2 separate regions of the Homo sapiens genome follow, and region 2 is linked to region 1. The links come from fine-mapping of genetic effects on gene expression. Tissue or cell type: whole blood. Region 1 holds a variant in brackets; the other region holds the start of a gene. All regions are shown on one strand. Distances are from middle to middle.

The links. PIP is the estimated chance that this variant, and not a neighbour inherited with it, causes the effect.
Region 2: LAMA5 starts here. The variant in region 1 is fine-mapped to the expression of LAMA5 in whole blood (TOPMed, PIP above 0.99).

The regions. Positions count from the first base shown.
Region 1 is chr20:62,327,327-62,335,326 of GRCh38, forward strand. It overlaps LAMA5 (laminin subunit alpha 5), which reads right to left. Exons shown (of 80, transcript NM_005560.6): 19 at 7,891-7,943; 20 at 7,695-7,800; 21 at 7,196-7,295; 22 at 6,860-7,016; 23 at 6,575-6,713; 24 at 6,238-6,380; 25 at 6,049-6,155; 26 at 5,764-5,917; 27 at 5,231-5,391; 28 at 5,046-5,154; 29 at 3,706-3,803; 30 at 3,417-3,618; 31 at 3,162-3,288; 32 at 2,451-2,590; 6 more. It overlaps MIR4758 (microRNA 4758), which reads right to left and starts at 5,231; the gene lies at 5,161-5,231. The variant T/C (reference allele first, on the strand shown) is at 4,832.
Region 2 is chr20:62,364,039-62,372,038 of GRCh38, forward strand. It overlaps LAMA5 (laminin subunit alpha 5), which reads right to left and starts at 3,274. Exons shown (of 80, transcript NM_005560.6): 1 at 2,911-3,274. The coding sequence starts at 3,207. RefSeq lists enhancers at 1-680, 681-1,380, 2,079-2,778, 4,877-5,576, 6,977-7,674 and silencers at 335-629, 2,958-3,397.

The DNA.
Region 1 (8,000 bases):
ATCTCCGTCCCTGGCTGCCGCTCGTGGGGCACCACCTGCCGGTCAGTGCTCAGCAGCACCCATCCCTCCATATCCACGAACTGTGGGCACACACGTGTGGCTGCACACGGGTGGATGCCCACACATCACAGGGCCCCATCTTGCATCCAGTCCCACCTAAGACCTCCCCGAGAAGGCAATGCCCTCAGTCCTGCAGGCGCACCTCCTGGCGGGTGTAGGACGAGCTCCGGCAGCGCTCCGTGGCCCCAAAGCAGAAGCAGCGGGTGCAACCTTTGGGGTTGGCAGCATCCAGTGAGAAGGTCCCAAGGCTGCACTGGTCACATTTGGGGCCCTGCACGTTCTCCTAGGGATGAGAGGACAGTGAGAGTGGTCGGCAGGTGCCAGGTGCCTGACCCCGGGTTCCTGGTACCCACCTGCCAATGGGGATGACTCTCCCAAAAGCTTCTAGGAAGCCCCAGCTGCCCCGAAAGGCCCGTAAGGACACTTTCAGCTGATGAGGCCGGAGGGAGAGGCCAGATCTGGGCCCAGCCCTCACTCACCTTACAGTAGCACTGCCCTGTGAGGGGGTCACACACGCCAGGCGCAGTGCCCGCCTCGTGACAGTCACAGGGGCGGCAGCGGGGGTAGCCATGGAAGCCCGGAGAGCAGGTATCACAGCGGCGCCCAGTCACGTTGGGTCTGCACCTGTGGCAGGGGCGGGAGCTGAGCCCCCTCCACCCCAGGTCACTCACACCAAAGTGAGACCTCGTAGGCACCCCCCACCCAGGCAGCATCCTCCCAGAAGTGGAGGAGAGGGCGCTGCTGCACCCAGGGAGCACAAATGGGAGCAGGGTGGGTGCCAGGACCCTCTGGCTAGAGGAAATGCTGTCCTTAAGGCCACCAGGGGCCGCGCTGACGCCGCTCTGGGCTCTCACTTGCACTGGCCGCTGTCTGTGTCACAGGTAGGGTCTGTGAGCTCCTGGATGCCGGGCCCTGAGCAGTTACACTCCTCACAGCCGACCAGGGGGTGGCAGCCAAAGGTCTGGGGCTGGCACAGCAGGCAGTCGGGCGGGATGGTGCGTGGCGGGCAGATGCACTGGCCCGTGAGCTCGTCACAGAGGCGGGCACCGCAGTCACAGGCTGTGGGGCGGGTACAGGGTTTACTGACCCCTCTTCCCAGTCCCGCCCCTCTCAGAGGCCCAGAATGCAGCCCTAGGGGATGTGGCAGTGTGACGGGGGCGGGGGAGACAAGAACAGGGACCCCTGCCCCGGGTGCTGAGCCTTGGACAGCTCCTGACATGGAGGCAGCTGCTCAGAATCAACATCATCGTCAGAGACTGTGGACCACCTGCTGGTCCCTGAAACCTTCTGCATGGCCCGCAAGCTGGAGTCCTGGGCCCAGGCCCGCAGATGGGGCAGCAATGCTGCCCTGCCAGGCTCTAGAACATTCTCCTGACCCTGCTTTCTGGTCGACCCGTCCACCTTGGGCTCTGGCACCAACTCCCTGCCACTGGGCGCCCAAGGACTGGGGTACTCACGCCTGCAGTTGGGGAAGCCCCAGTATCCGGTGGCACAGCGGGAGCAGTCACGGCCAATGACATGGGCATGGCAGGGACACTGGCCCCCGAAGGGCTCACACGTGGGGCCTGTAGCACCTACTTCGTGGCAGCCACATGGACGGGCTCCGTTGTTATAGAAGAGGGAGAGGGAAGCAGCAGCGTTTCGGCAGAACAGGGATGAGCTGCTGGGGCTACATGGAGGGGCACGTGGTGAGGCCAGCTCCCGGCCCAGACCCCCACCCCGGACCCCTGACCTGCCAGAGCCCTGCCCACCTGATGTGGTAGCCCTGGGCTGCGCAGTGGCTGATGAAGTCATAGGATTTATCCAGGGGCTCCTCCCGGAGGTAGCCAAAGCTGTAGACGTTCTCAGGGACCACGAGTACATAATCCTAGGGGGTGAGGCCTGGTCACTCTCCCGCGGGCCCAGAGCCTGCAGCGGGGAGGCCCCCAGAGGCTGGCTGGGACCAGGGTCCTGCAGGCAGCTCAGAGTCCTGGCAGCAGCAGCCCAGCCCAGCCCAGCCCAGCCCTGGGCCCTGGCTGCTCAGGGGAGGCCACTCCAAGCCAAACAGCAGCTTTCGGGGGCATGAGGAGGCAGCAGCATTCATGAGACCTCCTGGTGTCTCCCACATCTCTGTCTGCTGGCCACGCCTTCCTCTTCCCTCTCCTTCCTGGAGGCCCCACCTCCTCCAGGAAGGCCACCCTGACCAGCAGGGTGCAGGGTGCAGGGTCCAGGGCCCCTCTGGAGCCTCACAAGGTGGATCGGGAGGTCCCCAAAGGCAGGAGCTGCTTTGCTGGGCACAAGGCCAGGCCTCAGCAGGCCCAGAAGAGACAGACCCAGCCCAAGTGTACCACAGTGGTAATGACAAGTATAAGGACAGCTGGTCCCTGAGCAGGACATCAGCTGGGACTCACCAGCCAGAGCCACCGGCCCTTGGGCACACGCACGGTCACAGTGAGCTCGCTGTGGGTCACGTCCAGCAGGGCCTGGCCCTCACACACCACCAGGGTGCGGCAGCCGTAGCCATGTGGACAGAAGCTGGCGTTGGCGTGGCCTGGGCGGGGGAGAAAGGCAGGGTCAGGCCCCCATCTCTAGCGCCCCCAAGACACCCAGAGGGTTGAAGATGGCAGCGTTGGGGCAGCCAAGGAGTGCCCGCTGGCCAACGGCCACAGGCACGGGACGTGCCCAAGAGGTCTGCAAGGCCGGCCCCTCATGTCACGGGGGTTGGCCGCATCATGACCTACAGATGTCATGCGGGACACCTCTAGGTACCGGTCAACTCCATGTGCGGGACCCCAGGCTTGGCCGAGCCAGGAACCAGACAAACACACAGGGCCACATGTGCTGCCAGCGGCATCCTGGGGCAAGCCCTCAATTCGCCACGTGCCATGGAGCACAACGGGGCTTCCCAACGCACGAGACAGAGGCGAGACCCAGGCTTTTCTGGGAACGGGAGCGGGCGGGTAGGGGCTGCGGGCTGCAAGGGCAGCTAGTTTGAGAACTGATGGCAGGACAGAGTCATGTTGCCTGTCGCTCATAGCAGGTAGCACAGGCCACGCTGTGGCGCCGGCATTCCAGCCTCATCGTGTGTGGTAGCCTCTCCACCCCCCACACCAGACACTCACCCTGCCACACGCGGCCGGCGTTGATGAGGACTTCCACGGGGAAGGTGGGGTGGGCTGGCTGGTAGCCGTGCAGCAGGAAGGCATAGCGGCCCAGCGTGGGCACATGGGTGGTGAAGACCACGGTGGCCTGCAGGGATAGGCCCTAGTGAGCAGGCTGAGCTATGAGCCCCTGCTGCCCCCTGGACAACCTGCCCTGGGTTGGGACCCGGAGTCCTGCCCTGACACCCCCGTCCCTCTAGAGACTATGGCCCTCACCTGGGGCTCACGCAGCAGGGTGGGCTCTGCATCAGGGTCCACAGCGGTGGGGGGCCGAGGTCGGGGTCCAGCTGGGGACATGGCTGGAGTGAGATCCTGCGCGTGGGTCAGCGGGAGGCCGGGCGGCAGCGGGATCACCTGGCAGTCCCTGAGGATGATGGGCTGGGGCGGCTTTGGGAAGCGCGAGGGCAGACAGGCGGCACTGGTGAGAGCACAGTGGGTGAGTCAGAGCCGGCCCTGCCGCCGGGCCCTCGGCCGCGCCCCTCCCAGCCCCATTACCTGCCATTACCTGTTGGGGCCAAAGGCGCCGTGGCTGCTGATGCAGCTGACCCGGGGCTCCACGAACTCCGGGCTGAACTCCTCAATGGGCACCAGAGTGACCCCGTGCTGCAGGCAGAGGGACGAGATGCTGCAACGCCCGTGGTGCGGGGAGGATAGGGGGTGCAGGCGGTACGATGGGGGGGTGCAGGCGGTACGATGGGGGGGTGCAGGCGGTACGATGGGGAGTGCAGGCGGTACGATGGGGGGGGTGCAGGCGGTACGATGGGGGGGTGTAGGCGGTACGATGGGGGGTGCAGGCGGTACGATGGGGGGGCCGGTCACACAGCTCAGACCCAGGAAACTGCAAACCCAGGCGTCCGACCGAGCCCTGCTCTTTCCAAGATGCCCTTGCTCCTCCTCCAGCTGCACAAACCCCAACCGCAGACCAGCGTGTTGGCCAGTTCCTGGGCCCACAGGCCTATGCGGCTCCTCCCATAGCCCTCTTCCTCCCCCTCGCCCTCCCATCCGTCACTGTTCCCCCACTCTTATCTCGAGTGCTGCTTGGTGCCACCAGGCCGGGCCAGGCCCAGCTCTCCCAGGACCTGACCCAGGCAGGCACTCAGCAGGCACAAGCCGCAAATGGGTGCTCCCTTTCCGTGCGGCCATGTGAGGTTGGTGTCTCGGAACACGGCAACTTATCCGCTGACACAACGGTGGGAGACGCGGCTGCACAGAACATGTTGTGTGGCATTTATAGAAAGTGCCAGGCCAGGTATGGTGGCTCCTGTCTGTAATCCCAGCATTTTGGGAGGCCCAAGAGGGCGGATCACCTGAGGTCAGGAGTTTGAGAATAGCCTGGCCAATATGGTGAAACCCTGTCTCTCCTAAAAATACGAAAATTAGCCAGGCGTGGTGGTGAGTGCCTATAGTCTCAGGTACTTGGGAGACTGAGGCACGAGAATCGCTTGAACCCAGGAGGTGGAGGTTGCAGTGAGCCAAGATCTTGCCATTGCGCTCCAGCCTGGGCGACAGAGTGAGACTCCATTTCAAAAAAAAAAAAAAAGAAAAGAAAGTTCCAGAACAGGCAACCAACGCTGTCTGTGCCAGGAGGTGGCTGCCCTGGGGCCAGGGAGCTGTGACTGCAGGTGCTTTCC[T/C]GAGCACATGGAACAGCTCGGGGGTACGTCAAAAGGGACTGAATCCACAAAACGCTTGCAGGAGGGGTTCCAGAAGAAACATGCTGGGCTGGGCATGAGCGAGTGTGGCCGCCTTGGGGACCTGGGACCCCAACTGTCCTCTCCCCTCTCATGCATGTTTCAAATCTTCTGAAAGAAGCTGACCCCTTGGGGTGGGGACCTGAGGGGTCCTTACCAGGAAGAAGCGTGCCTGTTCGGCTGTGAGCCTCACGCTGGCCTCCGAGTCCAGGTGGAAGACAGCCAGGTGGTCCTGGGTATCCCGGGCAGTGCCCCGGCACAGGGTGCTGTGGGGGGAGGGTGGTCAGCAGGTGGGGCAGCCCCGGGCGTGCCCTTACTCCAGCCCCACCGGCTCCCACTCACCTGTACAGGCAGGGGTGCAGGGAGAGCAGCCCCTGCTGGGGGGCCCGCTGTGGGGTGTGCACGGCCACGCCCACCTCCTGGCGGGCATCCTCATTGGCGTACTCCACCACTAGGGCATAGCGGCCTGGCTGTGGCACTGCCACTTGAAGCTGGACGTCCACCTGCAGGGAAGGCAGGGTGACGGGAGGCCCGCCACCCCTCGCCCTTCCCACCTCCCTCCCCTCCCACTCCAGCGCCTCCCTGACCCCAGGGCCTGCCCTTCAGCCGAGTCCCACCCTGGCCCGGACATCTCCAGGCAAGTGGTGGGGGCTGAGCTGTATGTGGAGGCCACAGCCAATCCTACATACAGACAGGCACTGAGGTCACACATGCAGGAGGCAGGAGGCAGGAGGCAGGGGCGCCCTGCCTGGGTGCTGGGCTCCATTGCCTGAGGCAGCGCCCTGCTCCTATAACCTGCCACCGCCACAGGACCCCCAGCCCCCAGGCCAAGGTCCTGCAACACCCATTGCTCCGTGGGGTCCCAGGACACGCACATCACTGCCCGTGCAGGTGATCAGTGGCGGGTGCGACGGGCTGAGCTGCTCCGTGGGGCAGGGCCGGGGCAGGCTGTTGTCCTGGCGACACAGGGCCTCCAGCCCGGCGGCCGAGGGGAAGCCATCCAGGGGGAGGTGTGTGTAGAGGAGGCAGCTGGGGGGACACAGGCCGTGGTCAGCCCCAGGTCCACCCAGGTCCCCAGAGACAGCCTGAGTGGGGGAAGCCAGGCACAGTGGGGGTCCAGGAAGCCCCCACCCCGGTCCCACCGCACGCATGGCCCTCACTTGTCGCCAGACTGCTGGGCAGAGGGACGGTATGTGCAGGCCTCAGTCACCCGCAGCTGCAGGAGCGCCGCCTCGTAGTATGCGCTAGGCAGCAGAACCACGTAGTCCTGCAGGGTGGAGGTGGTGCTGAGAGTGGTGGGCCCCACCCCCTGACCCGGCCCCCAGCCCTCACTCTGGCCCCTGCCTCACCAGGAGCACCCCTTCGGCCTCCACACGCAGGGCCCAGGTGCCAGGGTTCAGCACAAAGGGCTCTCCGAAGCCCCTCTGGGGCACGGTGATGAAGGCAGGCTCCGTGCTGGGTGGGAAGGCCACGGGCTGACTCTGTGCTGTGCCTGGGCGGGGGCAGGGGTGAGACTCCTGAGCCCAGCCCTTGGGGCCACCCCAGGCTGCACCCCCTACAGGGTTGGGGATAGGCTGGTCCTACCACCCACATGAGCCAGAGGAAGGTGGCGGGGCTTGGGAGTGGGGTGGGGTGGGGTGGGCTGGGCTGGTGGGGCAGGGGCTGTGGCCCAGGGACCCCACTCACAGTTGGCGCAGGTGGCCGACCTGCCCTCCTCTCGCACAGAGACCCGCCCGCTCACACTCATGGCCCCCCGGTTGACGTATCGGAAGACGAGCCAGAAAAGGTCAGGGGAGGTCAGGTTCAGCCTGGCCACGATCCTGGGCTGGGTGGGCATGGAGCGTCGGGTCACTCTCCCTGACCACTGCCAGCCTGAGGCCTGGGCCTTCAAGGGGCCTGCCCACCCCTCCCTGCCAGCCACGCCTGGCTCCACTTCTAGGCTGAGCCTGGGAGGGGGAGCACAGCGCCCACCTGGACAGGTGCCATCTGCGCGTAGCCCCTCCAGCTGAAGTTCTCGAACTCGAGGGGGTTGAAGCCAAAGCGCACGGCGTGACCCTCAGGTGTGGCAGCCTCCTCCAGCTCCAGGCGCAGGTGGTGCAGGTCCGGGAGGTAGTGGTCCCTCGCAGGCCTGGCCACAGCAGGGGCTGGTCAGGTGCAGCTTGGCCATCCTACCTAGCCCTGCACAGCGGCCCCGGGTCTCCAGGGAGGGTGAGGCCTCACGTGGGCCCATGGTGAGGGACACGGAGAGGCCCGGAGGACAAGCTGCCTGCCCCGCTCCCCACCACCCAGTGGGGAAGGGGTACCCACTCGCTGCAGGTGGGGCCCTGGGTGTTGGGGCGGCACCGGCAGACGCCCGTCCTCGGTTCACAGCTCTGGCCCAGTGCACCGCCAATGTCACACCGGCAGCCTGCAGGGAGAAGGTGGGAGGTCAGAGGCTGCCTGGCCCCCACCCAGCCTCAGGGGCCCCTCACAGCCAGACTGAGAAGCCTGCCTGGGGCTCTCTGGATGATGGAGAGTCAGGGCTCAGGGCTCAGGGCTCAGGGCGAGGGCGAGGGCGAGGGTGAGGGCGCTGGGATCTGTTAGTGCCGTCTGCCCAGGTGTAGGACAGGGGAGAGGAAGCCACGCATCTGGGTGGGAGCTGCACCCCCTCTCCCACACCCTGGCACAGGCTGGCACCAAGGGGCAGCCATCCATCACCCGGGCTTCATGCTGCCCAGGCTGCACTTGTCCCTCCGGGCCTTGGGTTCCCCAGCATAAACCGAGGGGAGGCAGGGCTGTGGTCTGGGACGAGCGAGTGGGCACTCACTGCGGCAGCCAAAATAGTCAGCCTGATCCAGTCCAAAGAAGCCATCCTTGCAGGACGCGCAGGCCTGGCCGCACACGTGGGGCTTGCAGAAGCACTGGCCGGTGCCCTGGGGGCCAAGGGAGGAGGTGAAGTGGGGCAGGGGAGGGTCCTGACCAGTGTGCCCCCAAATCCCCCACACCTTGGTCCTCAGACTCACCGGCTGGCACTCAGCAACTCCACCCAGTGTGCCCCTGAGGTCGCAGCTGCAGCCTGGGGAGAGCAGGGCAGGACTCAGATGCTTGGTGGGGCAGGAGAGCCTGGCTCCAG
Region 2 (8,000 bases), 37 kb after region 1:
CCCAGAGCTCTGCAGTGGCAGGGTCCACACCCTCCTTATTCCCGCTGTGTCCCCAGCTCACCACCTAAGCATTCTCGTGGATGGGGCTAGAGCAACTGAAGACACCCAGTTAAGCGCCACGACCCCTACCCGCAGGCCGCACTGCAAGCTTTGATGGTGGCCCCCAAACTCAAGAGCTCAATGACAGCACGGCGCACACAGGTCCTGCTCAGGGTGGGGCCAGGGGCTCCTGGAGAAGGTAGGTGTGGGCGGCGCCCTCTGGCTGGGACAGCCGGACCTCCCAGGGAAGGCTGCTTGCTGGTCAAGACCCTCCCAGACACACGAGCAGCAGAGGGAAGCTGGGTGGAAGGTTGCGGGTCAAGGGTCAGCCTCTACTCTTCCAGGAGGTCAGGGAAGCACCTGCTCAGTCCCTGCCTGGGCCAGCGTTGGTCCAGTTATTGGGAGGCAGTTCCAGTCCCCATTCGGCCACTCACTGAGCCACAGAGGACAGGGTTGGGAAAACCAGGCTCCCCCACCTCCGCTGCGGAGGGTCCCGTGAGAACAGAGCTAGGAAACAGCAGAAGGGCCGATAAGGACTTCCCCTTCCAATGAGTCACCATGCTGGCCTGGCTGCCCAGTCCCCACCTTCCCAGGCTGGGCCGGCCAGGGATCCCCTGATGCCCACCTGGGGCTGTGAGGGCCACAACCTCCCCCTGCCCTCTGCCTGCTCCAGCTGCCCAGCAGGGTTCACCCCGACCCCCATCTGGGATGCCCAGCTAATGTGCATCTCCTACAGAGGGTCCCTGAGAGCCCCTGGCCTGCAGCCTTGAGAACACACTGCCCAGCCCCAGGCCCCATAGCCTTAGTGAGCCCCCTCAGATGGAGCTGCGGCTTCATCGCCTGGGCACCTCCTGTGCCTGCCTGCCTTGCCCCAACCGCAGCTCCACTCCAGACCGGCCGGCAAGGACTTCTCACACGCCCAATCCGCGGCCAGGGCGGTCAGCAGACCCGCGGCTCTCAGATGAAGGAGGCATCCAAGGTCATACCCGTCCAGCTCACGTCTACCAGCTGATCTTTCTACATATCTGGCAGCCTCAGCGGGCACTCACTGCTCAGAGCTCGAGACTTTGGAAGCGAAGGGTTCACCTCTATTGCTAGACATGAGCTGGGCGAGGCCGGCTGGTTTCTCATCCAAGCTGGCTCTGAGGCATGGAGCACCACAGCCCACAGCTGCCACTGAAACTGTGGCCACTTCCCAGGCTCCTCGGGCCAAGCTCACAGTCTCAGGTGAGGGGGGCCAGCACGCTGTGCCCATTTTAAAGACAGCTTGAGGCTGACAGAGGGAAGCCACACAGCTGAGGCAGAGGAGAGGGGCGTTGACTACAGGCTGGCCCTTTACTCACGAGACGGGGGTAATAAGCCCCCACAGAGGAGACAGATCTGAGAGGGGGCCTGTGGCCCCCAGCCACGCAGCATGGGCAGGCTGTGGGGGGGTGGTCTGAGGTTCACAGGGCACCTGGAGCCTCCCCTGCCAGAACGGCAAAATCTCAGCTGGGGACACTCAGCCAGGCCCTCTGTGGTGAGGTGTGGCAGCAGGTAAGGAGACAGTCACAGGCCCTCCGTCCTGAGACCCGGCCCCTCTGAGTTGACCAGATAAGGGGGCAGCCAGGAGGCACCCAGGTTCCCACAGCTAACCCCCGCTGGACCCTGTTCTGGCTGGGGGGCTCCAAGCAGGTGTCAGCAGCTTTCCAGGGCTCAGATCCCCCATCTGAAGTGTGGGCTTGAGACCTCCTATCTCAGAGGACTGTGCTGGGCTTAAGGAGAGAACGGTGAGCCCAGAAGCCTGGGGAGGCTCCTTCCCCCTCCACCAGGGCCAAGGGGGTGGGGCAGGCAGAGGGGGCGGGCCCAGCCCAGGCTCCTCCATTCATCCCCATAACGTCTTGCTCCAGGGCCCTCTGCCCCCACCCAGCAAATCTCCAGCTACTCGCCCCTGCCCCAGCCTCTCCTTCCGGGAAGGCAGAGGTACCAGGGAGGAGACAGCTCAGGTTACACAGGCCCTCAGGGCCCCTAGACTCTCCCTAAGGTGGGGCTGAGGTGGGGAATGGGCCTAGAGCGGCCGGTTGGGAGCCGTTGGAGCTGACTTTGCTGCTCCTCACCCAAGGCTGACCCCAGGCCCAACCTAAGTCTACAGGGCCCCAAGAGCCTTGGTTTTCAGGTGAGGTGTCCATGCATGGAGTCCACCAACAGAACCCGCCTACAGGTTTAAGGCTTGTTGGGGAGGGGACATGCACCCCAGGGGGTCTTCAGGGCCTGAACCCACATCTCCCAGGGAGACTGAAGCCCCCGGACCCTACCACCTGCTGGGCAGAGATGCTGCCCCTCCTGGGAGCCACGTGTTCCCAGCCCCAGTCAAAACTTCGCAGCTGGCCCTCCCCTACTTTGGAGGTCTCCTCGAGTCCCTAGACTCCTCCGAGAGGGGCTAGTGGGAGCCTCAGGTGGCTGGCCCCTCCCACCCCATCCAGAGGCCAACAGGTTCCAGCCTGTCCCGGGTAGGGCGGAGCTGCGCCCCCTCCCCACCGGCAGCAGGCGGCGGAGGCCAAGTCCCGCCCTCCCCGGGATCCCGGACTTGGGGCCGCCAGGGACTGGGCCCGGCCCCCCTCCCGCCCCGGTCACCGCAGTCGAACTGGACCGGCGCCCAGCCGCCCCCGGGTCCATGCCGGGGACTTTAATTCCGCCTTCCCGGAGGGACGCGAAGTTTCCCGGCCGAGACGGAGCGGCCGGGTCGGGGTGCCTTCTTGGGCCCCCAAAATGCGGAACCAGAGAGTCCGCACCTGGACTCGCCCCGGGCCACGGCGCTCCCCCTGGGGTCGGGCCGGTGTTCCGGGTCCGAGTGCCCCGGGAGGAAGCCCCACGGCCCGCCCCTGCGCTCACCCGGATGGTCTGGTTGGGGTCGCCGCCGGCCACGGGGCCCCCTACCAGCTTGCAGTAAAGGTCCTCGGTGGGGCGCGGGGAGCCGCGCGCCGGGGCCTCCTCTCCGCAGGTCGCGGAGGCGGCGATGCGGGCGCCCTCGGCCAGGTTGAAGTAGGGCGGGTGCAGGCTGAAGCCGCCGCCCGCCTCCTCCCGCGCCCGCGCCGCGCCCAGCAGCGCCAGCCCGACCAGCAGCAGCGGCGCGGGGCCCCGGGGGCCGCGAACACACAGTGCGCTCCCCGCGCAGAGCCGCTTCGCCATCTTCCCGGCTCCGGGCCGCGTCCCCGAGCTCCAGGGACAGCGCGCGCGGCGGGAGCCCGGCGGGTCTGAAGCCAGGCGGCCGGCAGGGCTCGCTCCGCCCGCGGACGTCAGGCCCCGCCCCGGCCCGCCCGAGCGCCCGAGCCCCGAGCCCCGGGGAGAGGTCCGGGGAGGCGGGGTGGGGGGGGGAAGGAGAGAGGAGGGGGAGGGGCGGCCGGGCGGCCTTAACCCTTCGGACCCCGGCCCGGCCGCCTCCCGGAAGGGGCACCTGCTGGCCTCGGGCCAGGCCGTGGGACGACGGCGCCGCCGGGCCCCCAGCCCAGGTCGTAGCTCCGGGTCCCGGGTGGGACCCTAGCGCTCCCCACGACGCCCTGGCCCCCAGAGCGCCCACCAGCTCCTCCCAGCCCAGGGGCCCACTCTTTGTTCCCCTAACTTGGGTGCACCACTCGGCTGCCCCCGCTCCTCCCCCAACAGCGTCCGTCCTGCTGGCTGCGGGAAGGTGCCCTCTGCACCCGCGAATGACCATCTGCAGAGGAACGGGGCAGCCTAGGTGGGAACCCCCTGCTTCCTGGGGCAGCCAGGTCAGGTTCAACTCGGCCTGGCTCCCGCCTGCCCCAGCAGGGCTTAAAAATACTCTCAGATAGGGAAATAGGGGCAGGAGGGACTGGCCTGCAGCTGCAGCCCCCTTTAGAGGACGGGGGCGGTGCTCATGGCCCCACAGCCGCCAAATTGGCTCTTAAGGAGGTCGGGGGCTCTGGTCACAGCTGCTGAGCACCTGCTGGGTGCCTGGAAGCACCTGTGCTCCGGGGCCCGGTGGACTCCACCAGCTCTCTCGGCCTGGCCTCCAACCCGCTGCACAGCCGCGCACGCGTTCCTGCCACGATCGGCGGCTCGAGGACGCCTGGCAAACAGCACAGGACCTAGAGGCCGAGATCAGGTCTTCGTCTGCCTTTGGGTGGCTGCGGCCCTGGGTCTCCTACTTCCCTTGGGCTCCGGGGCCAAATCTGCCTCCAGGGAAGCCCCGAGGGGGTGGCGGCGGGGTGGGGCTGCAGCTGCCGAGCTGGCAGCAAACCCCCATCCCTGAGCCAGGCCAGCTGGGCGGGCCATGGTCCCAGATGGGCTGTGGGGCTCATCTCTCGCTGGGTTCCCTGGACAGTCCCGGGGGGCTGGGTGGGTTTGTGGGGCACTGGCCAGCCGGTTCTGGTGGGGGTTCTGAGCTAGCAGCTGTCCCTGGAGGGTGCACCTCCTTGCACACCTTCCTGGCGCCCTGGCCTCCTGCAAATCTCAAATCCCAAGAGGGTGTATGGCCCTTTCTCTACGGAGTCGGGAGGGCGATGGGACCCTCTCTCCCTCCTCCTACTTTCCGGCCCGGCAATTCTTCCATAACTTCACTATTAGTTCTCCCACCTGGGGGAGGGGGGAGAGGAGGCGGCTCCCCTTGGCAGGAGAAGCTCCAAGTGGGGGAGGGGCTGGCTGGAGAGGGGGCGGAGACATCAAGGAATCTGCAGTCCAGGCGCAGAGTCCGGCTCTGAGCTGCTTTAGATCCCGTGTGAGGCAGAGAGTGGCCTCTGGGCAGTAGCGGGTCCCCAGGTGGGGGCTTGGCCCCAGGCAGTGTGCTCTGGCTCTGGGCTCCCCCTTGACAGCTTGGGGCTCTGACAGCCTGGGGGACTGGAGGTGGAGACTCCTGAGACCCTGAGGGCTTCTTGGGATCCCTGGAGGGTCGGGTGGTTGGAGGGGTGGGATTGCGAGTGGCGGGGCAGGGGGAGAGGTGGGGGTGGGGAGAGCACTTTAAGCCTCCTAGCGGCCAGATCAGGCCAAGCTGCCAGGCCTCCGCTGTCCCCCGGCACTGGCCAGGAGGGGAGCGGGGGCCGGCCCTGAGAATGCGCTGTGTCAGCCGGAGCTGCCAGCACCAGCAGGGTTAATCACCGGGCTCACTGCTTCCCGGCAGACAGCTGCCCCGGGAGCAACTGGCAGGCAGGCGGGCAGCGCAGTGGACAAGAGAATGTGGCCCAGGGGCTGGGTAAAGAGCCCACACTCTGCCCCCACCCTGTGTCTGCTGGTGCACGGACTGGGAAGGAGGCAGCTGGGGCAGGAGCTGAGCGTATGGAGGGCGGGGGGGCTGTCCCAGCCGGGCTACACACAGGGGGTTGGGGAGGTGAGCAGGGAGAGGGGCAGCTCATCTCTGCACACCCCCACCCCTGCTGTCTTTGTCATGGTTCCAGTGAGTCATCACCAAATGGACCAGCGAGCCTGTCTCCTTGTCTTTCTGAGTCCTGCGCAGCCCAGCCACCTCTTCTATTTACAAATGGGGAAACTGAGGCCAAAAAGGCCAGGGTCAATCAAGAGCACACAAGTTAGTAAAGCAAGAGGAAGTTTGTCCATCATTCATTTCTTACTCCTATTTACTGGGCATCTTTCGGGCACCCGCCCGTGACGTAGTCCTCCTCCCTGCAACAGGTCAGACGGCACCCCACCCCCAAACACGTCCTGTCCTGAATCCACAGGAGGGAGCTGCCCAGTCTGGGAGTGGAGGGGAGGGTAAAAGGAGGTGGCTCGCCAGGGGAGGGCCGTGGAGGAGCCTCTGTCCCACCAGGCTCTGGCTGCCCTCCAGGGACAATCCAAGATCCAGAGCCCCTGCCCACCCAGCTCCAGGGTGATGGAGCCCCAGAGGAGGTGGGTCGGGGGCAGGGGTCAGTGGCAGCCCGAGAGAAGTAGGGGCACTCCTGGCCCTGGGGAAGGGGTCTCAGATCCTCCCCCAGCCCTGGGACAAGGTCTGCTGCGGAGCCCTGGGGGCAGCCACCTCACCTGAGCCCCCAGTGCTACTCCAGTGGCATTCCTGAGAATGCCCCCACCCTACTCGGCCACACCTGCAGGCAGCTGTGGGGGACCCTGAGGGTAGGCCACAGGCACATCTGACTCAGCCGTGAGTCGTGAACTCCTGACCTTGGGAGCCTCCTGGGGACACCGCTGTGCTGAGGACATGGGGCACCCCCACGCCCACACTCAGCTGCATCACAGGCAGCCACAATCAGTAACAGATGACTCTGCAGACCCTCCTGTCCCAGAGCCCAGGGTCCAAGTGGGTGCTGTACCCTCGGGAGAAGCCCCCAAGAGGAAGCGGGGGCTGAGCAAGAAGGAGGGCTGGAGGCTGGGCTCCTGCTAGGGCCGGGCCTGCGGGTGAGGCCTTGTGGCTCCCACTCCAGAACTGGGAATGTTGTCTCAGCGGGATGAGGTCTGGAGGAACGCCAGCGCTGTGGTTTGGGATATCGGAGGCCACAGTCCCTTTCTCAGGGCTGCTGGGATGCCCTTCCGTGGAGCCGGCTGGTAAGAACCTCCATCCCTGTCCATGAAATAGAGAAGCTGGGAGCGGGCAGCAAGGCTGGTTCTGAACTGTTCGCGTGGGCCAGCTCAGTCCTCTGGGAGGAGGACACAGAACAGCAGGTGCCGGGAAGACAAGGTCTCATCAGGATTGCATAAACCCAGCGGACTGGGAGAGCTTCTGGGCCTCTTGGCCTAGGAGGCCCCCACTGCCCTCAGCCTGGACAGACTGCTGTAAGAGCCAGCCCGGAGTTGCAGACCCTGGGGGGCTGGCCTCAAAGGAATGGAGGCAGAGCCCAGGAAGACCCTGAGCCATAGCCAGACCCCTCCCCCAGGCCTGGAGCCCGCCTTCCCCCAGGGCTGCCACCTGCCTCCAGCCTCCGAGGGTCTGCAGGTTCCTGCTGCCAGAAGGATGGGGCCAAGGGATAGTCCGGCCTTCCTGGCCTAGGCAGGGTCTGGAAACAGCCCGTTTGGAAGGAGTGGTGCTTTTTCCTCCCTGGCTGTGACCCCAGCTGGGCCACTGCTGGGCTCCTGACGGCCTCTGGGACATGTGGTTGTTGGAAAGCACAGAGACCAGGCTCCGGGTTGACACTAACCAGGAATGAAGGACTCTGACCCACCGCTGCCTGGCCCCTGGCCCCTCTGCCACTTGCTGTGTGTGCCCAGCTCACAGGCCACGCAGCCCCAGGCACCACTCACGGGGCAGGCCCTCCACAGACTTGGGGCTCTTCAAAGCCTTCCAGGCCAGGCACCATGCCAGGAGCATGGCCACCGCCTTAGGGCTCCAGGAGACAAGTCACCCGTGCAGGTGACATGCCTCACGCCTGCCCACTCCCCGAGGCCCGACCCAAAGGCTGCCACTGGGTTCACACCTGGGGGGTTTCAGGTGGGCCCCCATGCCAGAGGGGGTGCAGACAGGCTTAGGTGGTGCCCAGTGTCGGAGATCTGGAGAGGGTCAGCATCCGGGCTCCTTGGGCTCTCCACAGATGCTCCCCGAGGCTCCTCTTGCCCACCCAGCTCCTTTTCTTCCCAAGTGGCAAGGAGAAGCGCTTGGGCTGGTGCCCTGTGCAGGCGGGCCCAGCCCCATGACAAGCAGGCAAACCTGGGGTGCTCAGAAATGGGGGGGCCTCATGGAGCTCTGTGGGGTGGTCTGCGTGGCGACCGAAAGTCCAGAGTCCAGGATCCCACCTGGATGCCCCTGCCCCGGCCTGGGCCTGTGTAGCTGGGTGTAGGGGAGCCTCCACCCTGCCAGCCTTTAGGAGGGAAGGAGTAGGGGGCCCTGGGAACTCCCAGGGAGGGGGCCCGGGACCTCCCTGGGATCTAACCACCTACAACTTGGCAGGGAAGGGGCCGGTCCAGTAACAAGGTTGCTCCCAGGACCCCAACCCATCCCCTCCCTCAAGTGGGGGCCCCTGTCAGGGCACCTCCCAGCACCTTGCTGGGGTGTGAGGCAGAGTCCAGGACTCCTGCCCCCAGAT